Regions from separate parts of the Homo sapiens genome. Here region 2 is linked to region 1. The links come from fine-mapping of genetic effects on gene expression. Tissue or cell type: whole blood. Region 1 holds a variant in brackets; the other region holds the start of a gene. All regions are shown on one strand. Distances are between the middles of the regions. Region 1 overlaps PARK7 (Parkinsonism associated deglycase). Region 2 holds the start of TNFRSF9 (TNF receptor superfamily member 9).

Region 1 (15,106 bases):
GAATGTGCTTAGTAAGTGGGTGGCTGGATGGGTAGGTGGCCGGTTGGATGTGTGGCCAGATGGGTGGGTTGGTGCTTAGATGGATGGCTGCATTGTTTTCCCATCAGTATTTTTCTGGCTTACACAGGCATCCTTGCCTCCTATTACACATTTTTACCTGACATAAATCAACTGCCACATTTTCCATTTTTTATTATTATTATTTTTGTTTAGAGGAATGGTCCCACTCTCTCCCCTAGGCTGGAGTCCAGTGGTGCAGTCACAGCTCACTGCAGCCTCAACCTCCCAGGTTCAAGCAATCCTCCCACCTCAACCCCCCACGTAGCTCGGACTACAGGCATGTGCCATGCCCGGCCATTATTTTTTCTAAAGATACTTTCAGAGTTCCACTGTAGTTGTGTTGTTTTTTCAGTATCGTTGGAATTATGGCTCTTACCTTTAAGGACGATGGACACTTTTGGAAGCTAGCATCCCTTTCCTCAGAAACATGCTCCCCCACAGGCGCTTTTGCACACTCCGTCGTGCGGTCAGCGTGACAGGAGTGTGGACTGTACCCTCTGACAGCAGGGTCATGGCAGGAAAGGAGGCAGAGTCGGCTCACAGATGGCTGGTTGCACACTGCTGAGGAACCTGGAGTGCGGTTCCCTGGGCCGAGCTGTCCTCAGATACATAGGAAAAAGTTTAATCCTTTCTAATAAGTTTAGATTTTTCATTACTGGATTGTAGAAAATTAGACTGTTGGTATTTACATGTGATTTGTTGAAACAAATTAAAAATGACAAGCAGAAGTAAGTATTCCAGGCCAAGTGCAGTGGCTCACCTGTAATCCCAGCACTTTTGGAGGCCAAAGTGGGAGGATCACTTGGGACCAGGAGTTTGAGACCAGCCTGGGCAACATAGCGAGACCGTTTCTCTTTAAATTAAAAATTTGTAAAAGCCAGGTGTGGTGGTGCATGCCTGTAGTTCTAGCTACTTAAGAGGCTGAGGCAAGAGGATCACTTGAGCCTAGACGGTTGCTTGAGCCCAGGAATTTGAGACAGCAGTGAACTGTGATTGTGCCATTGCCCTTCAGCCTGGGTGACAGAGCGAGACCCTGTCTCAAAAATAATAATAATACTTTTTTTCATCTCTGTTTGTGTTTTTGTCATATGATGTCTGGGCATTTTAAAACAGTGGTTACCTTTATTTTCAATCGACAGATAATAAGTGTACATATTCATGGGATTTGTGATGTTTCCATGCATAATATATAGTGATCGGATCAGAGTAATTAGCATATCCATCATCTCAAACATTTCTTTGTGTTGGGAACGTTCAATATCCTCCTTGCTATTTGAAACTATATATGATTGTTAACTATAGTCATTCTACGGGGGTATAGAACACCAGAACCTATTCCTCCTATCTAGCTATAATTTTGTATCTTTTAACAAATCTCTCCCTATCCCCACTTTCTCCTATCCTCCCCAGCCTCTAGTATCCTCTGTCCTACATTATGCTTCTATGTGATCAATTTTTTTTTAGCTTTCACATATGAGTGAGAACATGGAGTGTTTAATTTGCTATTCCTGGCTTCTTTCACTTAATATAATGTTCTCTAGTTCCATTCTTGTAGCCACAAATGACAAGATTTCATTCTTTTTTATGGCTGGATAGTATCCCATTGTGTATAAATGCCACATTTTCTTTATGCATTCATCTGTTGTTGGACCTAGGTTGATTTCGTATGTTGGCTAGTGTGACTGTTGGTGTAGTAAACAAGGGAGTGCAGGTGTCTCTTCAGTATACTGATTTCCTTTCCATTGGATACATGCCAAGTAGTGGGATTGCTGGACCATATGGTAGTTCCATTTACTGTAGTTTTTTAAGGAAGTGGTTACCTTTTGTGTGTTTTTATTTTTCAGTGCAGATTCTAAAAGGAGTAAAATAAATTCTATACTTTACACATTTTCTTTTGAGTTTTGAGCTTTGCTTGGTTTTGAATCAACGGTAGGATGTTTATGGTCTTAAAAGTGATTCTAAGCCAGCCATAGTGGTTCACACCTGAAATCCTAGCACTTTGTGAGGCTGAGGCAGGAGGATTACCTGAGCCCAGGAGTTTTGAGACTAGCCTGGGCAATGAAGCGAGACCCTGTCTCTACAAAAATAAAAAAAATTAGCTGGCTGTGGTGGTGCATGCCTGTAGTCCTAGCTCCTGCAGAGGCTGAAGTGGGAGAGTTGCTTGAGCCCAGGAGTTCAAGGCTGTAGTGAGCCACGATTGCATCACTGCACTCTAGCCTGGGTGACAGAGGTGAGGGCTTCTCTCTAAAAAAATTTTATAGGTTGCACTAAATACATAATACATTTTTATTTTGTAATTTGTTTAATGACTAGATTTTTTTTAACCACTTTTTAAAGTACTAAAGTATTGTTGGCCGGCCACAGTGGTTCACGCCTGTAATCCCAGCACTTTGGGAGGCCGAGATGGGTGTATCACGAGGTCAGGAGTTTGAGACCAGCCTGGTCAAGAGGGTGAAACCCCATCTTTACTAAAAATACACAGATTAGCCGGGCACAGTGGTGGGTACCTGTAATCCCAGTTGCTTGGGAGGCTGAGGCAGGAGAATCGCTTGAATCCGGGAGACGGAAGTTGCAGTGAGCTGAGATCACTGCACTCTAACCTGGGTGACAGAGCAAGACTCTGTCTCAAAAAAAAAAAAAAAAGAAAAGAAAAATAAATAAATAAATAAAAAGTCCTAAAGTATTGTTAAAACAATTTCCGTTTTGTAATTTCAGGAAGTTTGAAATTAATTTGATTTCTAGGATTTTTTGGGGGGGATACTAAAATTCTCCCCCCGTTACATTTTTCATAAAGTTAAGAAAAATTTTTTGTGCCTTTTACTTAAAATTTGTTTCTCTATTAATTTTATTTGTTTTTTTAGACAGAGTCTTGCTCTGTTGCCCAGGCTAGAGTGCGGTGGTGCAGCCTCAGCTCACTGCAGCCTCTGCCTCCTAGGTTCAAGCGATTCTCCTGCCTCAACCCCCCAAGTAGATGGGACCACAGGTGTGCACCACCACACCCAGCTAATTTTCATATTTTTAGTAGAAATGGGGGTTTTGCCATGTTGGCCAGGCTGGTCTCGAACTCCTGAGCTCAGGTAATCTTCCTGCCTTGGCCTCCCAAAGTGCTGGGATTACAGACATGAGCCAGTGTGCCCAGCCTGTTTTTCTATTAATTTTTTAAGTTGTTCATGTACATTCTTGTTGAACAATAATTCAAACAATATAGACACATATAAAGTCAAAATGTTAAATGTCCTGTTCTCATTCTCCCTCTGCCCCATCCCACACTACTCCCATTAGCAACTAGAGTGTCTTCCTTTGTCTGTGACTACCTGTATACAGAATATGTGGGGTGGGGTGCTTGTGGTGATTGTACACATACACGCATACATCTACACACAAATACATATATCCTTGTCTTTTACAGGAAGGAGATTATACTACCCCTGCTACTCTGCAGCGTGGACATCCTTGCATGTCACTACATACAGGTTTTCTGCATTTTTTGCTAGTTAAAACACCATTCCGTCATGTGGATACACCTTAATTTATTTAACTGTTCTATTGGCAGATAGGCTATCTCCTGTACTTCCCACATTTAAAATAGGAAAGTATTATTGGACTGTCAATTTAATGCACAGTTGAAATGAAATGTTTTTGTTTTCTTTATGTTTTAAACTGTTACAGGGACCATATGATGTGGTGGTTCTACCAGGAGGTAATCTGGGCGCACAGAATTTATCTGAGGTAAAAAATTCTACTCAATTATACCTCAATAAAGCTGGGGGGGGGGAAAAACTAAAGAATTTCAGCATCTGCTTATGTTCTGTTAATTTTGTTATTATTCAAATATTTCGGGAGGAGGCTGTGAAAAAAAAATAGAAACAACTAAAATTAACAAAATGGTGTTATAGCATTAACTCAAACTTTTTTTTTTTTTTGAGACAGAGTCTTGCTCTGTGGCCCAGGCTGGAGTGCAGTGGCACAATCTCGGCTCACTGCAATCTCCGCCTCCTGGGTTCAAGCAGTTCTCCTGCCTCAGCCTCTGAGTAGCTGGGATTGCAGGCATGCACCCCCATGCCCTGCTAATTTTTATATTTTTATTAGAGACGGGGTTTCACCATGTTGGCCAGTCTGGTCTCAAACTCCTGACCTCGTGATCCGCCCACCTCGGCCTCCCAAAGTGCTGGAATTATAGGCGTGAGCCACCACTCCCGACCTCAAGAAAACATTTTTAATATTTTCTATGGAGGTCAGGTGCAGTGGCTCAACGTCTATAATCCCAGTGGTTTGGGAGGCTGAGACAGGAGGATTGCTTGAGGCCAGGAGTTTGAGACCAGCCTAAGTAACACATCGAGACGCCATCTCTACAAAAAATTTTCTTTTAATTAGCTGGGCACGGTGGTGCACACTTGTAGTCCCAGCTACTCGGGAGGCTATGGTGGGAGGATGACTTGAGGCCAGGGATTTGAGGCTGCAGTGAGCTGTGAATGCACCACTGCATTCTAGCCTGGGCAACAAAGCAAGAACCTGTCTTATCAGAAAAAAAAAATGTTGCCATGGAAGTAAGCTGAATTGGTGGGACCGTTATGAACAGATGTCGATGAATACAGTCCAAAGTAAGATGATTTGGTTTTTTTCCACCAGCAGAAGAATGATCAGATTTTGTGTTTTGAGAAGGGCAAATTGTCTACTCAAAGTCTTAACTGGGGGAAGCTGTGGGGCTAGGGCTGCCAGCAGGAATGGCAAATGCCATCAGCAGAGACCATTGTTCCTCATTTTAAGTCGTATGTGAGGAGTCAGAGGCCAGGGTGAGGGGCACACCTGCAGGCAGAGTTGGGGCTGCCAGAAGTAAGAAGTGGGTTGTGTCAGACACAAGGGATCTTTTCCTGCTAGATTCTGTTCCTCTCTCTGCCATCTGAAAACACCCAAAACACCACATTCCCTCCCATTTCTTTCTCCCTGGAGTACAAAATGGCAAGGGTCAAATTGCTTCTTCTGATCTTTAAATGTGGAAGAGTGCGTTTCTCTTATGAGAAATGCCTTGCTTGGGTTTAAGAATATAATATAGACACATTTTGATCATTTTTATACCAATGATTTAGAAATATTGTTGGAAAATAGGTCAGAGAGCTTGT[G/A]GTTTAAACTAAAATTAAATTCTTCCAAAGTTTCCTAGTGAGTGATTGGTTAGTGGCTTAATGATAACTTTATGTATTTTTGGTTTTCTTTTCACTAGTCTGCTGCTGTGAAGGAGATACTGAAGGAGCAGGAAAACCGGAAGGGCCTGATAGCCGCCATCTGTGCAGGTGACGTGCAGGGGCAGCCTGTGTTGCAGCGTCATTGGTGGGTGGGGTAGCCTTTCATTCGATGGTTTGATTCCAAATAGCTCTTCCCCTTCATAAAGCATGCAGGGCATCTGTGTTGGTGTATTTAGTTTGGGTGGCATGAAGTTGGTGTCATTTCAGAGATGAGGACAATTGTTCTGTTTTCTGCCTCTCCATGCCTTTGGTCTACATGCTGTGAAACTTAGTGTTTTCCGTGTTTGGTTGACCTCGGAGGAAAATAAGGCCCTCTGGAATTCAGTAAACAGCTTGTTACAGCAAGTCTCTGTGCCAGAAAGTCTTTGTGCCAGCACACAATCAGCAAAATCCATCAAACATCAACACAGCAGCTCTGTCCTGTGCTTGCCCTGCAAATTCAGAAGCCCCCATGGTGCTTTCCGCTGGCTTCTCGGGCGTTTCTGATTGTCTCAGTACCGAGTGATCTTGGGCACCGCATTATCTGCCACATAATTTAGAACAAGGACATTTGGTGCTTCGCAGATGTCCTCTTCTCTTTGTACCTTAGTAATATTTTATTTTCTCATAACCATTTTAAGATCCATTCTTGTTGCTTTCCTATCAGATGATGTTCTGCCATTTTGGTTTTTTCCCATGCTGTAATTTTTGCCAGCACCTTCCTTGTTGTATAGGTCTTCATTAAATATTTGTCAGGGCCGGGCGCAGTGGCTCACGCCTGTAATCCCAGCACTTTGGGAGGCTGAGGCGGGCAGATCACCTGAGGTCAGGAGTTCAAGACCAGCCTGGCCACCATGGTGAAACCCCATCTCTACTAAAAATACAGAAATTAGCCAGGCGTGGTGGCGGGCGCCTGTAATCCCAGCTACTCGGGAGGCTGAGGCAGGAGAATCGCTTGAACCCGGGAGGCGGAGGTTGCAGTGAGCCGAGATTGTGCCGTTGCACTCCAGCCTGGGGGACACGAGCGAGACTTCGTCTCAAAAAAAAAATAAAATAAAATAAAATAAATATTTGTCAGAAGAGTGAATGAATAAACGAATGAATGAGTGGATGGTTTGGTAAACATCAACATCAAAACATGTTGCTGTTGCTATTTTGTTCAATACAGTAGGCTTTTCAAAAGAAGTTATGGGCCAGAGGTCCTGGGGACTTGATACATTCGAGTATCAGTGGTTCTCAATGTTCTTTTGGTGCACTTGCAAGGTCAAAGCAGATGCTACTGAGGGGCCAGGTGTGGTGGCTCATGCCTGTAATCTCAGCATTTTGGGAGGCCAAGGCAGAAGGATCTCTTGAAAGCCAGGAGTTTGAGACTAACCTTGGCAACATAGCCAGACCCCCATCTCAACAAACAAACAAACAAAAAATTAGCCAAGCACAGTACTGCATGCATGTAGTCCCAGCTACTCAGGAGGCTGAGATGGGAGGATCGCTTGAAGGCAAGAGTTAGAGGCTGCAGTGAGCTATGATTGCACTCCAGCCTGGGCAGCAGAGTGACACCATGTCTTTCAAACAAAATGTTATTCGCCTTTTTTCTTCTCAGTCTTTCAGGAGTGACATCAGAGTAGGATGATACCATCATCTGAGAATTTATTATTGTGTTTTAAAAATTTCCCAGTTTTATTAGGTTGATGTAAAAGTAATTGTGGTTTTTGCCATTAAAAGTAATTGGCGTGGCACAGTGGCGCATGCCTGTAATCTCAGCACTTTGGGAAGCTGAGGTGGGCAGATCGTTTGAGGTCAGGAGTTCAAAACCAGCCTGGCAAACGTGGTGAAATCCCGTTTCTACTAAAAATACAAAAGTTAGCTGGGCATGGTGGTGCACGCCTGTAATCCCAGCTACTCGGGAGGCTGAGGTGGGAGGATCACTTGAGGTCAGGAGTTCGAAACCAGCCTGGCTAACATGGTGAAACCCCGTCTCTACTAAAAATACAAAAGTTAGCTGGGCAGTTAGCTGGGTATGGTGATGCATTCCTGTAATCCCAGCTATCAGGAGGCTGAGGCAGGAGAATCTATTGAACCCGGGCGGCGGAGGTTGCAGTGAGCCGCGATTACGCCACTGCACTCCAGCCTGGGTGACACAGCAAGACTGTCTCAAAAAAAAGTAATAATTTTTAATATGGCAGATGTTCATAGATATAACCCACATAAAAGCTAAAGGGATTCTAAGACCTAAATGTTTGAGAACCGTGGCATTAGGGGCTGGGAAGAACCACAGAGGTTGACCACCCTGGCAGGTCTTGTACGTGGGCTTACTACAAGAGTCACCACTAGCCTTTTGACCTGCCCTGAGGCTCAGGTAATTATCTCTGCCAAAGGGCACTGCAGTCACTGCAGCCCAAGCAGCTGCTCCCCTCTTTGGAGAGAAAGTCACAGATCCTTGAGTTTGGTTTTCTTTGGCTCTGCTGCTGTGAAGCAAGCCTCAGTCCTAGATTCTTTGACCAAAGGAAGAAAGAGTTTGGGCTGAGTTTGTTTCCTTATGATTCTGCTGAAAGTAAAAACCACATGTCAGTTTGTCCTGTGCCACAAAAGTAGCAAAATCACTTAAGGTCAGGAGTTCGAAACCAGCCTGGCCACCATGGTGAAACCCCATCTCTACTAAAAATACAGAAATTAGCCAGGCGTGGTGGCGCGTGCCTGTAATCCCAGCTGCTTGGGAGGCTGAGGCAGGAGAATCGCTTGAACCTGGGAAGTGGAGGTTGCAGTGAGCCAAGATTGCGCCATTGCACTCCAGCCTGGGCAACAAGAGTGAAACTCCGTCTCAAAAAATAAATAAAATAAAATAATAAAAATAAAAATAACAAAAATTAGCAGGGCATGGTGGCGCATGCCTGTCGTCCTAGCTACTTGGGAGGCTGAGGCAGGAGAATCGCTTGAACCCGGGAGGCGGAGATTGCAGTGAGCCGAGATCGTGCCACTGCACTCCAGCCTGAGCGACAGAGCAAGACTTCGTTTCAAAAAAAAAAAAAAAAAATCAACCACATTTGGCTTACTGTTTTGTGCTGAGGCTAGATGGAATGCCATGCTAAGAAGCATGGGCCTTATAGTACTTTAAATCAACATTAAAAAATAAACAGGCTGGCTGTGGTGGCTCATAGCTGTAATCCTAGCACTTTGGGAGACTGAGGTGGGAGGATCACTTGAACCCAGGAGTTCAAGACCAGCCTGGGCAACATAGTGAGACCCCCCCACCGACCTCTACAAAAAAATATTTTAAAAAATCAGCCTGGTGTGGTGGTGCACACTTGTAGTCCCAGCTACTCAGGAGGCTGAGGTGGGAGGATCACTTTGAGCCCAGGAATTTGAGGTTACATTGAGATGTGGTGATCACACCACTGCACTTGAGCCTAAAGGACAGAGCAAGACTTGGTCTCTTAAAAAAAAAAAGTAAAAATAGGCCAAGGGCGGTGGCTCACACCTGTAATCCCAGCACTTTGGGAGGCCGAGGCGTGCGGATCACAAGGTCAGGAGATCGAGACCATCCTGGCTAACACGGTGAAACCCTGTCTCTCCTAAAAATACAAAAAATTAGCCAGGCGTGGTGGCGGGTGCCTGTAGTCCCAGCTACTCGGGAGGCTGAGGCAGGAGAATGGTGTGAACCTGGGGGGCAGAGCTTGCAGTGAGCCGAGATTGCGCCACTGCTCTCCAGCCTGGGCGACAGAGTGAGACTCCATCTCAAAAAAAAAAAAATTATATAAAAAACAGTAAAAATAGAAAACACACTAGCAGTGTGTTTATACCATTGAATATCCTGCACCACTGTTGTGGGCACTACACCAGAAATAGGAAAAAATGTGATGATGAGCTGAGCTAATTGAGATGAGGGTTATGGGAATGGAACAGAGGAGTGATGGAAGAGATTTGGATCTTTTAAATTGGCAAACAGAAAAATAAGATTCTTTTTTTTTTTTTTTTTTGTTGAAATGGGAGCTTTGCTCTTGTTGCCCAAGCTGGAGTGCAGTGGTGCAATTTCGGCTCACTGCAACCTCCACCTCCCAGGTTCAAGCGATTCTCCTGCCTCAGGCTCCCGAGTAGCTAGAATTACAGGCACCTGCCACCATGCCCAGCTAATTTTTGTATTTTTGGTAGAGACGGGGTTTCACCATGTTAGCCAGGCTGGTCTCGAACTCCTGATCTCGTGATCCGCCCACCTTGGCCTCCCAAAGTGCTAGGATTACAGGCGTGAGCCACCGCACCCAGCCAAGATTATTCTGAAGTGTTGCAGTTAGGGATTGGAAACATTTTGAACACAAAGAATATTAGCCTAGTCCTTAATATTGAGTGAATGAGGAACGCAAATTGGAAGGGAGTCTATGTTGAGAAGAAAATTAAATGATATTTACTTTGAGTAGGGGAGGGGGAGGAAGTGTGGAGTTGGAGGAGTGGACAGTTGTCAGCTGAGATGCCCAGGTCTAGGAATGAGGCCTCTGGAAGCAAGGTCTTGGCCACCTGGAGGAGCTGGGGAGTTGGCAGAGGTGGTCATTTTGCATGTTACCACAGGGTGGTGCTGTTGGCTGCAGAAGGGGACATGGTCAGCTGCGCCCTCTGCACTGTAGTGCAGAGTACAGAGCGTTTTCATCCATCAGAATCCCAGGTCCTGGGAGAGTGAAACGTCTCTTCTCCAGTATTCCAAATAGGGTTCTGACGCCCCAGAAAGCAGTGATTATGAGCTTACCTGATAAGTATGAAAGACATCAGTAAATTCCTGAATCCAACTGTAACATAAATTTATTCACATCGTAGCAGTGATTTTATTACCACCTTGAAGGGAGCAGCCTAAAAATTCTCGTTCACCGATCACTTTCCTCACTGTGCTATCATCTATTAAAGTTTACTTTAAAATGCAAGATGATGTAGGAATTTCTTCTTAAATTCTTACCAAATAAAAATTAAAAACAATTTATAAATCCATTCAAATAAAAATTGATAATTATTCAATTCTTACGGACTTCTAAAATTTGCTACCATACATAGCTGTCTTGTGTGTAAAAATAACGTGGAGAAGAGACATTTGAGGCTTTTGATTTAAGAGCTATAAATCAGGACTTGGTCTGAAACTGACAGCTGATATTAGGCAGAAAGCTTATGTAATTAGGTAGTATTTGTGTGATCTTCCTGTTTGTAACAGCTACGGTCTGAGTAGCTTGTGGGTATATTATATAATTCCTTCCTTGGAGTCTTGTTGAAAAATGAAAGGACAGTAAGACCAAGACCTCTCAGGTTTGCTGACACTAAAAGTGTACAAACTGTGCCACAGGATCTTAGCCATCCAGGGCACCTTAAGTGTTTCCAAGATCAAGGTGCTGTTCTGAAACGTATCCTTCTAAGTGTCATGTGAGGCCTTAGAAAGAATGTTTATATGTGTGGCTTAGAGGAAAAAGGTAGAATGAATACTTTGTAAAAAGCTTTAAGATGAAATAACAATGAAAGGTATATAAAATCTTTGTTTTTAATCCTTATTTAGGACCATTACATACGCAATATGCTTGTGACCCTCCCTGAAGTTGGCCGTTTTCAGTGAATACATTTAAATAAAAATCTCAAGTTAGGACCTGCCAATTTGGAAAGACTTCATCAACTGACACTTCCATGTGGTTCTTTGCTTAAGTAGCTTTCATCACGTGATGCTAGTGCCTTTATATCTCACACTTCCAGGCACTTCACAGGCTATCTCCTTCAAGGACAGTGTGCTGTCCATTTTAATCCTACCACCTGGCATACTTGGGTGGATAGGTGGATGAACGAGTGTTAATTTCCCATTTTATTTATTTATTTTTTATTTATTTTGAGACAGAGTCTCGCTCTGTCGCCCAGGCTGGAGTGCAGTGGCACGATCTTGGCTCACTGAAAGCTCTGCCTCCCGGGTTCACCCCATTCTCCTGCCTCAGCCTCCCGAGTAGCTGGGACTACAGGCGCCCGCCACCACGCACAGCTAATTTTTTGTATTTTTAGTAGAGACAGGGTTCCAGCGTGTTAGCCAGGATGGTCTTGATCTCCTGACCTCATGATCCAGCCGCCTTGGCCTCCCAAAGTGCTGGGAATACAGGCATGAGCCACCGTGCCCGGCCTAATTTCCCATTTTCAAGTAGAAAATAAGATTACAAAAGAGCAATAAAATCCAGAAGTTCAGAGAGTACCAGTTGCCTTTAGCATGTAACTAAATCTTTCCTTTTACTAAGAGTGAGGTAAGAAGTTGAGCCCGCCCCAGTGATCCTCCCCCTCCTTTGGACTCCTGGTATATGTGGTCCCTGTTCTGGGGATGGGGAAGGTGAGAGAGGTGAGCACATTTTGTTTATCTGTGTATGCTCTGCTGGTATCAAGGTAAATCTTCTTGAGTAAATGGTTATTGAAGTATTTTGAGTTTCTGTGCTTTTGCCAGATGTGCTCAGCAAATCGTTTGTTATAAACATACTTTATCTCTCATACTAGGAAGTGTTTCATTTCAGAATCGTAGCTGTATGTTTGGTAAGAGCCTCTTGATTTTGAAGAATACTTTGCTGTTGCAGTTTTTGTTGTTGTTAGAGAAGGGGTCTGTGTTGCCCAGGCTGATGTTGAATTCCTGGGCTCAAGCAATTTTTCTACCTAGGCCTCCCCAATTGCTGGGATTACAGGCATGAGCCACTGTGCCAGGCACTATTGCGATTTTTTAAACATGGGCTTTTCTATATCTGCACTTAGATCTTTTTATTTTTATTCTTAGGTCCTACTGCTCTGTTGGCTCATGAAATAGGTTTTGGAAGTAAAGTTACAACACACCCTCTTGCTAAAGACAAAATGATGAATGGAGGTAAGTATATGCTTGTTTTTGTTTGTTTGTTTGTTTTTTGAGATGGAGTCTCGCTCCATCGCCCAGGCTGGAGTGCAGTGGCGTGATCTTGGCTTACTGCAATCCCTGCCTCCCGGGTTCAAGCGATTCTTCTCTCTCAGCCTCCTGAGTAGCTGGGATTACAGGCGCATGCCATCACACCCAGCTAATTTTTGTATTTTTAGTAGAGATGGAGTTTCACCATGTTGGTCAGGCTGGTCTCAAACTCTTTTTTTTTTTTTTTTTTTTTTTTTTTTTGAGACAGAGTCTCGCTCTGTTGCCCAGGCTGGAGTGCCATGGTGCGTTCTCTGCTCACTGCAACTTCCGCCTCCCGGGTTCAAGTGATTCTTCTGCCTCAGCCTCCTGAGTAGCTGGGATCACAGGTGTGCTCCACCACGCCTGGCTAATTTTTGTATTTTTTAGTAGAGATGGGGTTTCTCCATGTTGGTCATGCTGGTCTTGAACTTCTGACCTTGTGATCCACCCGCCTCAGCCTCTGAAAGTGCTGGGATTACAGGCATGAGCCACCGCGCCCAGTCTCGAACTCTTGACCTTGTGATCTGCCTGCCTCAGCCTCCCAGAGTGCTGGGATTACAGGTGTTAGCCACCGCGCCTGGCCCATATGCCTGTGTGTGGTTTTTTTTTTTTTTTTGAGATGGAGTCTCTCGCTCTGTTGCCCAGGCTGGAATGCAGTGGTGTGATCTCAGCTCACTGCAACCTCCGCCTCCCGGGTTCAAGGGACTCTCCTGTCTCAGCCTCCCGAGTAGCTGGGATTACAGGCATGTGCCACCACAAGTTTCTTGTAGACTGGGCACAGTGGCTTCCGCCTGTAATCCCAGTACTTTGGGAGGCTGAGGCGGGTGGATCGCTTGAGCCCCGAGTTCGAGACCAGCCTGGGCAACATGGTTAAACTCCATCTCTACTAAAAATACAAAAAACATTAGCCAGGCATGGTGATGCACACTGGTAGTTGCAGCTGCTCAGGAGGCTGAGGTGGGATGATCGCTTTAAGCCTGGGAGGTCAAAGCTATGGTGAGCTGTGATCTCGCCACTGAACTCCAGCCTGGAGGACAAAGCAAGACCCTATCAAAAAAAAAAAAAAAAAAAAGTTTCTTGTGTACCTGTAGAATTTTATCTATCACATACTCATTATCCTTTTTATTTTAACTAAAATGAGATCTACTAAATGTATTGTTCTGCAGCTTGCTTTTTTTAACTTAATGTTAATATCTTATGTTATCTTTTAACAGCACATGTAGATTTAGATTTGCTTCATCCTTGTTAAGTACAGCTGCTAGTCCAGTGTTGGAATGTGCCATGCTGTATGTAACCTTCTCCTGGGGGTGGGCATGAAGGTGGTTTTCTGCTTTTGCCCTTGTAAACCATGCCATAATGATCATCCTTGAATGCCGCTGTGAGCATATCTGAGCTCCACTTTAAAAGTGATGCACTTTTCATTATACTGCATGTTTTTTAATTACTAAACTTTAGTTTTTTAGAGCAGTTTTAGGTTCACAGCCAAATTCCCGTCTACCTTGACCCACTCGCCACTCCCCAGGCCCCCGCCCCTGGCCATGCATAGCCTCCCCTACTATCAACATCCTGCACCAGAATCTGTACCCACATTGACACATCATCATCCAGAGTCCACAGTTTACATGAGGGTTCTCTCTTGCTGTTGTACATTCTACATACAGTTACATTTGATCCAGAGCAGTGTTTTCCTGAAAATCCATGGTTTGTTTATTTATTTAATGTATTTGAGACAGAGGCTTGCTCTGTCACCCAGGCAGGAGTGCAGTGGTGTGATCTCAGTTCATTGTAACCTCCACCTCTTGGGATCAGGCAATCCTCTCACCTCAGCCTCCCGAGTAGCTGGAACTATGGGTATGAGCCACCACACTTGGCTAATTTTTAAATTTTTTTGTAGAGACAGGGTCTAACCATATTGCACAGTCTGGTCTTGAACTCCTGGCCTCAAGCGATCCTTCTGGCTTGGCCTCCCAAAGTACTAGGATTACAGATGTGAGCCACTGTGCCCCGCTCATGGTTTTATTTTAGTTGCTAGAAAGATACTATGTTATCATTAAAACGATCTGTTTGAAAATTGGTACTTTTTGCTGGATGCAGTGACTCACGCCTGTAATCCCAGCACTTGGGGAGGCCGGTGGGGGAGGTAGATCACGAGGTCAGGAGATCGAGACCATCCTGGCTAACACGGTGAAACCCCGTCTCTACTAAATGTACTAAAAAAATTAGCTGGGCGTGGTGGCGGGCACCTGTAGTCCCAGCTACTCAGGAGGCTGAGGCAGGAGAGTGGCGTGAACCCAAGAGGTGGAGCTTGCAGTGAGCTGAGATCGTGCCACTGCACTCCAGCCTGGGCAACAGAGTGAGACTCCATCTCAAAAAAAAAAAAAAAAATTGGTACTTTTTAATAAAAGTCTCTGGTTTCTGGGCATTTTAAATGTAGGAATTTAATTTACTTTAAGCTCATGGAGGGATTTTAGAGCGTTGAAAGAAATGGAAAGAACAGAACTGGGCTCCCTTTGTGATGTCTTCAGAGGGAAGACAAGCGGAGCGCGCTCCTGCACTACCTGAAGGTGTGCCTGTTGCATCTGTTTTCCTTTAGTGCCTCAAAAACATTGAGGTTGGTCAGGCATAGAAAAAGATCAGATTGTTGATGCTCACACTTGGAGTTTACAAAGCACGTTCCCGTACGTTATCTTGGTGGAGCTTCCTGGTCCCCAGTGCCCAGCAAGGCAGGTGGCATCATCCTGGCTTCACAAACAAGGAGAGACTGAGGCCAGAGCTCAAGCCCAGCCCTCTGCCTTGCATCCAGTTTTGGCTTCCTGCCCCTCCCCTGCTCTGTGGTAGCAAAAGGCTCCCACACATTTAAGTTACCAGGTGTTGGATTTAGTCAGTAACCTCTATTATAAGAAATGGATACTTGAAATGTCTACTCCTT
Region 2 (13,696 bases), 29 kb before region 1:
CCAGATTCTTTATTCCATAAACTAAAGGAAATTATACGTACTTTGTCCAGGGTCGACAGATGCCACGTTTCTGATCGTTAAATGTCCCAAAGCAACAGTCTTTACAACCTTGTATTAAAAATGAAAGCAATAATAAAAGGGAAGCATTTTCATCATTTTGTAACTTTTCCTGTGATGAACTTAATATAAGTCATTACCATAATGCAATCTGCACAAATTGTTCAATAATTCTTGAAACAACACCCTAAGATGGCTAGTTTTTATTTTAATTGTACATAAAGTATTGTATATGTCTGGAACATGTGAAGATTAATGGTTCTGGCAATTAACAAATGTTCTGATTTCAAATTATTTCCATTTATGAAGAAATAACGGAAATATTTTATTAATTGAAATATTTTATTAATTAAAATATGATATATCATATACTCCCTTGTTACTTTAAGGTTCTACAAATCTGTTTGTTTATTTTCAAAGGATCAAGATCAAAGCTAAGTTTGTCTATGTCACAAAACTACACTAGATCAAAGAAACGCAAACGTACCTTTTTTTGTCAGTTCTTGACCTTGTTTACAATCCTGTTCACACATGCTGCATCCTGCCCCCAGGCAGTGAAACCCTGGAGTGCAGTCACACTCTGCATTGCTGGTGGAGGAACACTCCTTCCTGGTCCTGAAAACACCTACAAAGTCCCCCCAGCCCCCAACATTTTATTACACTTGACCTCCAAATCCAGGAAGCGAATTTATGCTCTGCAGTAAAAATCATGCTCACTCTACTTATAGTGTTCCCAGTAATTTTAAAGTTTACTTTTAAATCTCCATAAAGACATTTTTACATTTAGGTAAGTAAAAACTTCTCTCTTGTCAAATGAATGTTTCCTCTAATATTTAGAAAGCTCAGTCCACAAATAATTGCTGTCACTGGATATTATTGTCCTAGACCTGCTGGTTGGCAGAAGAATCAGTCTTTGACACTTGAGATTTTCAAAAGAGAGCAGTTAGTAAATGGGAAAGAAAAGCTTATCTTCCCAACTATCTTCTAGAAGAAGAAAATATCTTTGAACTCATACCTTTACACTGCCTGCATATGTCACAGGTCCTTTGTCCACCTGCGCTGGAGAAACTATTTGGAGGACAGGGACTGCAAATCTGATTCCTGTTATTATCACAGAATGTACCTAAGAAAGGCAGACAATAGTGGTACACGTTTGACAATGGGCAATCGTCACCCAAGGCATTCCGAAGTTTACAATAAAATAAGATTATAAAAGAATGATGAGTTTTCTAGATGCCACAGTGGTGGACATTAGTTTGATTGACTTCCTAAAACAATACATTTGCAAGATTATTCTTTGTGTAATCACAGAATTAGAAATAACAAAATACAGGCCAGGTGCAGTGGCTCACGCCTGTAATCACAGCACTTTGGGAGGCCGAAGCGGGCAGATCACCTGAGGTCAGCAGTTCAAGACCAGCTTGGCCAACATGGTGAAATCCTGTCTCTACTAAAAATACAAAAATTAGCCAGGCGCAGTGGTGCACACCTGTAATCCCAGCTACTCGGGAGGCTGAGGCAGGAGAATTGCTTGAACCTGGGAGGCCAAGGTTGCAGTGAGCTGAGATCGTGCCACTGCACTCCAGCCTGGGCGACAGAGTGAGACTGTGTCTCAAAAAAAAAAAAAAAAACATACACACACAAAAAAAACAAAAAAACCAGATATTGTAACAAATAAATCAACAGAAAGAAAATACTTTATCTATTGAATAAAACAAAATGATTATCTTGATTGATGTAGGAGATGAATATGACTGGATCCAGGAGGACATCAATGTCCTACACTAAAATTTAAATGCGACTGACCGTCCCCACTCTGTTAAGCCCTTTACTACGCGCTTACTCGCTGCTATGCCCCCAGTCGGAGCACAAAGCCCTACACACAAAACTAACATTTATTGAAGTCTTGCCTTGTGCCATGCACTGTTCTAAGCCCTTCATTTGATCCTCCCAGCCATCCTATAAAACAGGTTCTCTTATTATCCCCAGATGAGAAAGTCAAGGCACAAGAGGTTGAATGACTTTGCTGTGTTCACACAGCTAGGTTGTAGCATCCAATAAACATTTGTAAATGAATGAATTTTCATTTTCCTTTCCTTAAAAGGGAGCTCGTTAGCCCTGACTACTAGACTAACTGAACCATACTTCCAACAGAGCAGATCAAATGCACATGATAACTGGGTACTCACCAGCTGGGCAGTTACTACAAGGATCCTGCAATGATCTTGTCCTCTCAAAGTTGAGGACCAGCAACAGAGTGGCTACTATGTTGTAACAGCTGTTTCCCATGATGAAATCTGGCACAGGTATGATACTAGCAAAGCTGATTCCAAGAGAATTTTAATCAAATTAGCTGGTCTCACAAATGTCACTCTGCAAAAGATAAACATTTCCAAGGAAAGGTGGTTTCTCCTTTCAAAATTATCTATATTGCAATCATTACTTATACAATTCTATAAGAGGATAACTCAGGGTTTTTCAGGAACAATTAATGATGCAATATTACGGAAAAGTAGCAGATTCATAGAAACCACTAGGACAAGGCAGGCGTGATTAAACACACAGCTTTGTGCCGGTTTGCCAAAGTTTGAGGGTGCATTTTCCATCATGTTCTGCCAAAATGCAGAAATAACAATAGCAAGAACTTTTGGGGACTTTCATAGGTACTTTGCAGTACCAACCAGCAATAATGCCAATTACTTATTGCCCCTGAAATAAACTCCTTACAAAGAGAATCTGTCAGGGGCATCAGACAATTCAGTTCAAGAAGAAGCTATCACATAATCACTCTTCCCCCTTTAGCTGAACACCTAACTACTAACATGTGGAAAGACCTCCCTGTTCAACTCACTAACACATTTTCTTAAACAGAGACATGTTTTGAGATGTGAAGTTTGTATGGTAACAAAACTAAGGAGTGAAAAACTCTTCAGGCTAAGTTATTGATGTTTATTTAAAGGGCTATTGAAGAGAAGTTATTACATATTAGGAGAAAAAGTCTAGAAATGGGCAAAGGGAGCAAAAGTTCCAATCTCACCCCTTCTCAGTGCCCCCACCCACTCCCCCAGATGGACAGACCTTGAGATCTCAGGGCTGCCGGAGAACTTTCCACTCCTTGGTCTTCAGGCTTCTGCAGCTCGAGAGGACTTCAGGTCAAACACAGGAGTGCGGTGACTCAGCCAGGGGCGGGGTCTCATGGGAAATTCCCACCACAGCTCTGTGACAGCCCTATGAAATCATTCATTTCATATCTGCTGACCCCGAAATCCCCTAGAGCCCCCGTCCCTGCCTGATAATGGCACTTCAAATTGCTTCTTGGAAGCAGCTCTCTACTGTCAGGATGTGTCACAGATGACGCTGGGAAAACGATTTTGTCCCTTAAGATAGCTCTCCAGGACAAAGCATTTAGCATGTCCTTAAAACACTGGATTTGAGATTAGAGGAATGAAACCAAATTCAAAACAGTGATCAGCATTTTGCCATATGCGGTCCCCTAACTCCATAGTCACTGTAATGCAATAGCTGCCATTACTTGAGCACAGCCGATGTGCCAGGCATCAGAGATGCACTGCGGTGAATACACACTATCCTCGAAAGAACCCTAGAACTTGGTATGACTGCTGTTGTTACTGGGAGAACACTATGCAAATGAGGAAAGTGGGGCTGCAAGTGGAATTAGAGCGTCAACAGGACAGGGAGCAGGCAGGGTTGGAACCCAGGTCGGCCTGGTCCCTTATCGTGCTCCTCCGGGCATGGGTGACAGAGGGAGGAAGGAGGGAGAAATGGAGGGAAATGGAAACAGGGGAAGCACAGCAGTCACACGGCAAGTCAATGACCAGGACGTGGTTCGGTGAAGCTGAGAGCTAGGAGGGATTTTTAGAAAACCATGATTTCAATTTTTCTTTAAAAAAAAAAAAAGGAGAAAGAGACCAGGCGCGGTGACTCATGCCTGTAATCCCAACACTTGGGAGGCCGAGGTGGATGGATCATCTGAGGTCAGGAGTTTGACACTAGACTGTCCAACATGGCAAAAACCTGTCTCTACTAAAATTACAAAAATTAGCAGGGAATGGTGGCGGTGGACCCCTTTAATCCCAGCTACTGAGGCTGAGGCAGGAGAATCGCTTGAACCTGGGAAGTAGAGGTTGCAGTGAGCCGAGATTGCGCCACTGCACTCCAGCCACAAAAAAAAAAAAAAAAAGAAGAAGAAGAAGAAGAAGAGGAAGAGGAGGGCAGAGAAAGCAGAAGGAAAAAAAAGTACAGTAAGAGGAGAGGAGGAGTATAAGGAGAAAGAAGAGGGAGAAGAGGAGGAGGAGGAGAAAAATAAAGAGAAAAGGAGGAGGAGGAGGAAGAAGAAAAGAACAGAAAGAGAAGGGGAAGAGGAAGAGGAGAAGGAAGAATGAGGAGGAGAAAGAATGAGACGGAAGAATGAGGAGAAGGAAGAGTGAGGAGGAGAAAGAATGAGAAGGAAGAATGAGGAGAAGGAAAAAGGGGTGTTTCTGGAGGAGGAGGAGGAGGAGGAGGAGGAGGAGGAGGCGGCTGCTCCAGGCTGTAGATGAACCTGCCCATCATTGAGCAGCTGGAGAACCTCAGGAAAACCAGGGGAACTGTGGCTGGGGCAGGCGTGGGCTGGGGAAGGACATCGAGAGTAGCTTGGGCCGTCCTCCTGCCCCGCGGTTCCCAGCACGAGCTCTCCCGACAGAAGAGGAAAACGCGGCGCGACTCGGTTGGGGGACAGCGCTGAGATGCGGACAGATGCGGACGTTCTGCCGCCGCCTGCAGGCAGAGGGACTCGGAGATCAGGCCGCAGAAGCAGAAGAAGGCAGACGGGAAGGAGGAGGAAGGAAAGGAGCCTTGTGGCTTCGTGTCCGACCCTCCCGCCCTTGGCCCGCGTGCCTGGAGCCAGCCCCACCGCGCCCGCGTTTCCTCCCGCGGGACTTCCCTTGGCCCTGGGTCTGCAGCGGGTCCTGCCGAGCTTCCTTCCCTCAGGCAGCCTCTCTCTCCCTGGCCACTCTCGGGGGTGAGGGGGGTTACCGGTTCCCAGTGATTTTTATTCCCTTTGCTCTCTCACGCCTCATGTTCCCCATTCTCCTGCCTCAGTTGTGTAATCTTGAGCAAATTTCTCAACCTCCCTAACTCTGTTTTTGCAAGCACATCTTACAGGTGCAGTGACACCATACATCTTCCTCGTGAGTGAGGATTAAATGAGACGATGAGCATGAAATACTTAGCTCAATGCTTGGCACATAGTTCTCAAGAAAGTAGGAATTGCTATGATCAGACTTACTGGTTTGAAATGTTCCTTCCCTGCCTCCCACACTGACCATCAGTAGAGCCACCACAGGGCAAGTCATGACAGAAAAGGAGAAAAACGCATGAGCTGCCTGCAAAATGTGTTCCCAAATACTGACGGTCATCTGAGAGTTATCTTACCTGTGACATCTGTGGGATCCCTCCTTGCCCCACTTTGGCAGAAATTGGCTGAATGTGAGAGTGTCACACCATAAAAATCGGACTGCTGATCCCCTCCTAACACTTTGAAAGTCACCATCTAACCAAGTAATCTCCTTGTTTACATGTGGTACTCTGTTTAACATTGCAGTGTGACATTTAACTGGGCCATATTTCATTTAACTAAATGCTACTCACTAGTCTACGTTTTGGACATTCTGTAGGCAGAGACATTACTTCCTCTGAAAGTGACATATTTAGTTTCCCAGCACAGTAATTAGCTCACTATTTCAGGCTTTTATGCCAGTAACATAAGAGTCTTTACTGAGCTAAAAGAGTCTCAACATTAGTTTTGCCAGCCCACAGTTAAACAAAGTCAACCACTTCAGAATTCTGCTACTGAAGGCTATGCTCAACTTTACTCAGGCGTTTAAAAAATTCATGGCTGGGAACAGTGGCTCACACCTGTAATCTCAGCACTTAGGGAGGCTGAGGCAGGAGGATCGCTTGAGCCCAAGAGTTCAAGATGACCTGGACAAGATGCCCAGACCCTGTCTCTACAAAAAATACAAAAATTAGCTGGGTGTGGTGGCATGTGCCTGTGGTTCTAACTACTTGGGAGGCTGGGATGGGAGGATTGCTTGAGCCTGGGAGGTCGAGGTTGCAGTCAGCCATGTTTGCACCTGTGCACTCCAGCCTGAGCAACAAAACTAGACTGTCTCAAAAAAAAAAAAAAAAAGAATTCATGTTACTGCATGCATTTTTGTGTGGTATAAAATCATCGTAGTAAGCTAAGTCAAATTATATAGTTAACCAGATATACATACTATCTAAGCTAGCCAAAGGTGTAATACTCTTTTGGTATAATTTTCATTTGCTTTATAACATGTATCATATTGCTTTATCCATTGTAGCCCTGTAATCTTTCAAATGCAACAAAAGCTTTTTCTATTCCATAAAACCATCTCAAACTAAATCAGAGATGACCCCGACAAGACAGCAACACTTTAGCAGTATTAATAATATTAATAATATGTTTCATCCATCCTAAGCAGTATTAATAATCTGTTTCATCACATCCTAAGCATCTCATTCTAAACCAAGAAATAGGCCGGGTGCAGTGGCTCATGCCTATAATCCCAGCACTTTGGGAGGCTGAGGTGGGAGGATCACAAGGTCAGGAGATCGAGACCATCCTGGCTAACATGGTGAAACCCCATCTCTACTAAAAATACAAAAAAAAATTAGCAAGGCGTTGTGGCAGGTGCCTGTAGTCCCAGCTACTCTGGAGGCTGAGGCAGGAGAATGGCGTGAACCCGGGACACGGAGCTTGCAGTGAGCCCAGATCGTGCCACTGCACTCCAGCCTGGGCGACAGGGCGAGACTCCATCTCAAAAAAATAAATAAATAAATAAAATAAAAAAAAAATAAATAAATAAATAAACCAAGAAATAGATTTTATTTCATTTTGATTGACTATAGGTCTAATCTTGAATATCTCAAGCAGCTAAATACTTTGAGGCTAAATAGCATGAAGGCCCAACAATTCTAAACAGGATAAAGGAGACATTTAGAAAGAGAAAGCCCTCAAAATAAGCTTCCTATAAAATATTCTTCCGCCCTTCCAGGGCGCATCTTAGAGGGAATCTCTTCCGTGGGATATTCACTGTTTACACTTGTTTTCTGCCTGAAAGATCTATTCTTTCAAGATTCAGTGTCGCCACCCCTACTCCAAACACCCAAACTAGTAGTCACTATTAGACATACCTGGTGCTTGTGATGTCAGTAGGTGTTCTGAGGCCTGGGAAGGAGTAAATTGTTTTTAAACTTGGAACAAAGAAAATGAGCAGGAAATCAAAGAGGAAGGAGGCAGAGTAAGGAGAAGGAAGTACGAATCATAAGGAGAGGCGGGTGTCAGCAGCCATCGACTTTGCTCACCTTTCCTCCTTGTTCTGCCCTTTCTCCAGGTGGCATCCACTCATATGCTAAGGCTTATCAATAGTTGTCTCCAACTTCAGACCACCCCCAACACTGTGCAGTCCCCAGGACAAGAGTACAAACAGAGGCCTGCTTACCATGTGTCCAAATATTTAGAAATTGTTCATCAATCCAAATACGCTGTTAAGTATGTTCTGTCCAGAGCAGAGACACAAACACACAAACACAATGAACACAGAGCTGCGTCTGTGACTGGGTGTCTGGCGCACGGTGCTGGCATAGGGATGCATTAACTCGGCTCCATCTGCTCTCTGGACCCACACTGCCAGGCCTGGGTGAAGACTCCCCCACATCCCTGGATCCATGTCCTTGAAACTCCATTTGAGGGTGACACCGTGCTGTGAGAGTTGTGAGCTGTGCTGTTGCCTCCAAGAACGGCAGGGAGGGTGTGAGCCATAGAAGTACCAGGCAGACAAAAGGCAAGTAGATTTGTCAAATCCATCTCAGATACCAAGGGTGTAACAGATTCTTGTATAATCTATTATTATGCAAGAATATCACAGACAGTGGTATTTCCCTACAGTCCCAAGTATCCTTTTTTTTTTTTTTTTTGAGACAGGGTCTCACTCTGTCACCCAGGCTGTAGTGCAGTGGTGCAATCTTGGCTCACTGCAGCTTCTGCCTCCAGGGTTCAAGGGATTCTTCTGCCTCAGCCTCCCGAGTAACTGGGACTACAGGTGCGCACCACCTTGCCCAGCTAAGTTTTATATTTTTTTGTAGAAAGGGGTTTTGCCATGTTGCTCAGGCTGGTTATCCACTTGCTTGATCCAATTTATGGCCCACTTGGTGGTTTTGGAAGTTCTTGTATATTGCCATGGAATTCACAGCAGTTATGCACAAAGTCTGAGGAAGACTTTGTAATATTAAACAATTCATATTATTCTTGAATATGCACATATGTAATATGTAGAATAAGAACTGCAGCATTAATTCTTTACTAGAATCACCTAGGACTGAGACCCAGAATGACAATTTCAATTTTTATAAAAATATTTAAAACAATTTAAATTTCAAAAGATTAAAAATCTCAGTTCTTTAATAAAAATAAGTTTTAAATATTTGATATTTATCCACTATAATTTGTTTTTAATTCTAATACTTTTGGAACTTTTAGAAAAATGAAAAAACGAATGTAAAAACAAATTTAAAATTTTACATACTCAAATTCACACATTATATTAAATACATACAAATGCTGTATATGTTAAGTACAATTATATTTTATTTCTTAATCCTTTAAGTCATTACTGTCCAAACACAAATTATGCGAAATTATCTATTGTAACAAATGAAATGAAAGCAAAAAAATAAATTTTCTAGATAAAAATACAATTATTTATGAACTATGTGTGTCTTTTTTTTTTTTTGAGACGAAGTCTCGCTGTGTCACCCAGGCTGGAGTGCAGTGGTGTGATCTCGGCTCACTGCAACCTCTGCCTCCTGGGTTCAAGCGATTCTCCCCACTCAGCCTCCCAAGTAGCTGGGACTGCAGGTGTGTGCCACCACACCCGGCTAATTTTTGTATTTTTAGTAGAGACGGGGTTTCACCGCATTGGCCAGGATGGTCTCAAACTCCTGAACTCAGGTGATCTGCCTGCCTCGGCCTCCCAAAGTGCTGGGCTTACAGGCGTGAGTCACCATGCCCGGCCCTGTATGCCTTTATTTACCACTAATTTAAACATTTTCAGGTCATCAGAAAACATCTACACATTTGTAATGTTAGTTAAACTCAGTCATCTTTGCCAACTTTGTTACATAAAAATAATTTGTTATTTAGTTACTTTGAAGACTTCTCTGTGAAGTAGAATATTCTCCTTGCGCTTGATTTGCCACTTTTAAATATTCAGACATGGTGTGTGGGCCCCATTTCTATACTTGCTCCAGGCCCCAAAAGTGTTAGAGACAGCGCTGAGAGACACACAGTTGGTAGTCAATAAACCTTTATCAAATGAACAAATAAATACATGGATTTGTTCACTCCAGTCCTGCGGTCTGCCTGTCTCTTCATGACCTAATGTTTTAATTTCACTCTCTTCCTGGGGAAATCATTCTGGCATGCAGACCCCAACCTGAGCTGTCATTGTCCTTTCTCAGGTCTCATGTAAAATGCTTTTCTGATCACGGCTGACACTGGCCGAGGGCTTACTATGCGCAAGGCACTGTTCTATGTATTTACAGAAGTTCCCACAATTATACCTTAGGACAGCCTTTGTCCCTGTTTCACAGGTGAGGAAACAAGGGCACAGAGAAGCCAGGTAGCCTGCCTGGTGTCACCTGGCTAGTAAGGAGCCGAGAAAGGATTAGAAACTCGGCTGTCTGGCTGCAGAGCCCATGCTCTTAACCAGACTCTTAACCTGCCTGTGCCCAAGGCCCCATTCGCTTGTGGGTCCTATGCTTGTGGAGCCCTCAGAATAGGATTCGTAATTCATAAAATATATTACAAAGGATTACAAAGGAAACCAACTGAATTGAAATGTCCCTGCCAAATATTTTAAAAGCCAATTTGTGATGCACTAATATATGGACTTAACATGTATCTGGCATAATTTCAAATTAATCATGAATCAAAATGGTATTCTGGGATATCTGCAAGAACTGTAATGTGATATGAAGATGACTTTCAGTACTATTGGTCCCAAGCCATGAGTACTGTTCCTTCAGCTATGCTTTGTGAATTACTATATTCCAAATGGGAAGAAATGTTAGGTTTAGATTTCCATTAGAGGTTAGTGAAACTAAAGATGTAATTTAAATCTAAGTTCACAGACTCCCTGATTTTTATCTGTGCACCTTTGAGCATCTGTGGACCTCAGGGTCACAACCCCTGTATGAAGTCTCCTTGCTGTCGCTCATGCGCTTAAACAGTTTGAGCTCTGGGAACTTGCTCTTACTCCAAGAGCAAGCTTCACTTTGATTATTTCTCCAGATGCTGTCATTGTATCTTAAGGCAAAAACTCTATGTCATTTCTGTCCCTCACCATCCTCACCAAGATGGCACATGTTTATGGTGTATCACATTCTGTGGTCCATTCCTCTGGTCCCTTCAACGCTGAATTTAAACAGATTGCGACTACCACTAAATAAATGTTTTCTAATAACAAGAGCTAATACTTATGGGTGGCTTCCTGCATTGCAGATGTTATGCTAAACACTTTAAATGTTTTATTTAGTCTCAGAAGACAGATTTTGTTCCTTCTGAAGAGGCTAAATAAAATATTTAAAGTGTTGAGCATAGGCCGGGTGCGGTGGCTCATCCCTGTAATCCCAGCACTTTAGGAGGCCGAGGTGGGCGGATCACCTGAGGTCAGGCATTTGAGACCAGCCTGGCCAACATGGTGAAATCCCGTCTCTACTAAAAATACCAAAATTAGCTGGGCATGGTGGCGTGTGCCTGTAGTCCCAGCTGCTTGGGAGGCTGAGGTGGGAGAATCACTTGAACCTGGGAAGTGGAGGTTACAGTGAGCCGAGATCACACCACTGCCCCTTAGCCTGGGCAACAGAGTGAGACTCTGTCTCACAGATGCACACAAAAAAAGTGTTGAGCATAACATCTGCAATGCAGGAACTCCATGAGGTAAGAATTATTGTTACTATTCTAATGTGAAGAAACAGAAGCCAAGGGAGTTCAATTCCTGAGACAAGGATTAAGGGCAGCATTTGAGGGTTTACTCCAGGCCAGTGTTCTAGCTTTACCTATATTCATTCATTTAATTCTCATAGTGACCCTGTGAAGTACACAGGTTCTGTGATCCCTGTTTTATAGATGGGGAACATGAGGCATGAGGGGTAACTCATTTGTTCAAGATCACTTAGCTAGCATGGGACAGAGCTGGGCTTAAATCCAGACAGGCTGGACTCAGAGAGCGAGAACAGGCTCTCCCACCACACCATACTGCCACATTTAAGGAATGGAGACACCAGGGATGGAATTGGACGCTGTCTCATTCCAAAGCTACCTTAACATCTGGCCAAGAGGTATGACTAACATAGGAGCTAGCTGTAATGGCACATTCCTGTGAATTAGTAAAAAGATGTGTTGACTCAGCAACCAAGGGTAAGACTGTCAATTCCGTGGTTTAAGAGCTGAGTTGGAAACCACATCAGAGCTCGTCTACATGAATGACTACCAAGAAACTGACGATCAATTTAAACTTTGAGAAATGTGATGAAGAGCAGAATTGACAGCCTCATAGTAGTCAATTTTTGGAGGAAGTTAGACTAGCTTAAAATAAGAGCACGTAATCAAAAACCATTAAGTAAACACGGGCTCTTTATTTTTAAATTCGGATGGCGAGAGATAGTTGCTACATGCCGTTAAAGGGAAAACTAGTCTTTGGGGTGCAGGTGACAACTGTGATCAAAGCAGTATCACCCCAAGAGGCAACATTATCCTGAAGTAACATAACTTTGTACCGAAGGCCAGCTTCTGGCTGTGGGGTACTAGCTCCCCGTCCCTAGCGTTCACCTTAACCCTTGGGAAGGAAAGTACTATTAAAATTAAGTAATATACAAATTCATCTCAACTACTGTCAATTAACATTCTAGTGTCCTTATTCAACAAATCAAAAGCAAGGCAACACCAGGAGATGGATTTTGTTTCCTTCTGAGCTTTTTAATGGTGATCAGCATTTTCTACCAAATAATTCCACTCACAAGTCGTTCTCCACAAAATCCGTCTCCTGTTCTTCTGTGTTTCCATTATAATGGAAGATTGTTGGATAAACCATTAGTTTTCATAAGATTTTTTTTCTTCAGTTAAGTATCACCATACTAAATAAGTATCACCACACAAAATAAGAGTTCCAACTGTCCCTGTGTGTAAGTTATAACTACTCCATATATATGCCTATAGGGTCTGTTGCACTCAACCTCAAGCAATTTCCAAGTTTCATTATTATTATCATTAGATTACTCTCTGTCCCTTATCAATTCAGTAAATTTAACTCAACAAGCATTTATCGAATGTCTAATGCAAATCTGCACATTTTCTAACCCATTTACTTCTCCTGTTTTGCATCCTACCACTCCCCTCTAGCCTGACTTGTTTTCAATTTTTAAATTTTTATTTATTTTTGAGATGGAGTCTTGCTCTGTCGCCCAGGCTGGAGTGCAGTGGCACCATCTCGGCTCATTGCAACCTCCGCCTCCTGGGTTCAAGCGATTCTCCCACCTCAGCCTCCCGAGTAGCTGGGATTACAGGCACCTGCCATCATGCCCGGCTAATTTTTGTATTTTTAGTAGAGATGGGGTTTCACCTTGTTGGCCAGGCTGGTCTGGAACTCCTGACCTCAGGTGATCCGCACACCTCGGCCTCTCAAAGTGCTGGGATTACAGGTGGGAGCCACTGCACCCGGCCACTCCCTCATCTTATTTGGGTTTTCTCCTCAGAAAACAGCATTCTTTGACCAGTGTCTAAACGAGCACCCTCCCCCCACCATTATTCTCCATCTTCTCTCCCTCCTTTGTTTTCCTTCATAGTACATACCACCACCTGGCATGCTATTTATTTGTGCTTTTGTTTACTGTCTGTCGTTTCCCCATGGAACATAAGCTCCATGAGAGGGGACACTGTTCACTGCTGCATCCCTGGCACCCCAGAGCACTCCTGAGAACACACAACAAGCCCTCCATAAATAATTGTGGAGTGAGTTTTATTGTCTTGTATGGCATATATAGATAAAGTGCCATCCCAACAGTTTTCCCAGCCTTGAGTGGAAGGAAGAGGTTACACAAATAACTAAGGCCACACAGCCGTACAGATTCTATAATAGGAGGGCAAAGTGCTACGGGAATAGAGAAAGTTTCCTGGAGGGATTGGCAGTGTAACTGGGTTTTCCAGGATGGGTAATACATTGAAAGGCTGATAAAGGCCGGGTTCGGTGGCTCACGCCTGTAATCCCAGCACTTTGGGAGGCTGAGGCAGGTGGATCATGAGGTCAGGAGTTCAAGACCAGCCTGGCCAACATGGTGAAACCTTGTCTCTACCAAAAATACAAAAATTAGCCGGGCATGGTGGTGGGCGCCTGTAATCCCAGCTACTCAGGAGGCTGGGGCAAAGAATTGCTTGAACCCGGGAGGCAGTGGTTGCAGTGAGCCGAGATCGAGCCACTGCATTCCAGCATGGGCGACAAAGCAAGACTTCGTCTCAAGAAAAAAAAAAAAAAAAAAAAGGAAAAAAAGGCTGACATGG

What was found.
Region 2: TNFRSF9 starts here. The variant in region 1 is fine-mapped to the expression of TNFRSF9 in whole blood (INTERVAL, PIP above 0.99).

The regions. Positions count from the first base shown.
Region 1 is chr1:7,965,616-7,980,721 of GRCh38, forward strand. PARK7 (Parkinsonism associated deglycase) reads left to right here. Exons shown (of 7, transcript NM_007262.5): 4 at 3,730-3,789; 5 at 5,279-5,348; 6 at 12,037-12,123. Among named protein-coding and RNA genes, the nearest start is that of PARK7, 11 kb to the left of the region's middle. The variant G/A (reference allele first, on the strand shown) is at 5,181.
Region 2 is chr1:7,937,649-7,951,344 of GRCh38, forward strand. TNFRSF9 (TNF receptor superfamily member 9) reads right to left here and starts at 3,191. Exons shown (of 8, transcript NM_001561.6): 1 at 3,136-3,191; 2 at 2,247-2,430; 3 at 1,073-1,180; 4 at 545-682; 5 at 42-108. The coding sequence starts at 2,346. RefSeq lists a silencer at 4,895-5,034.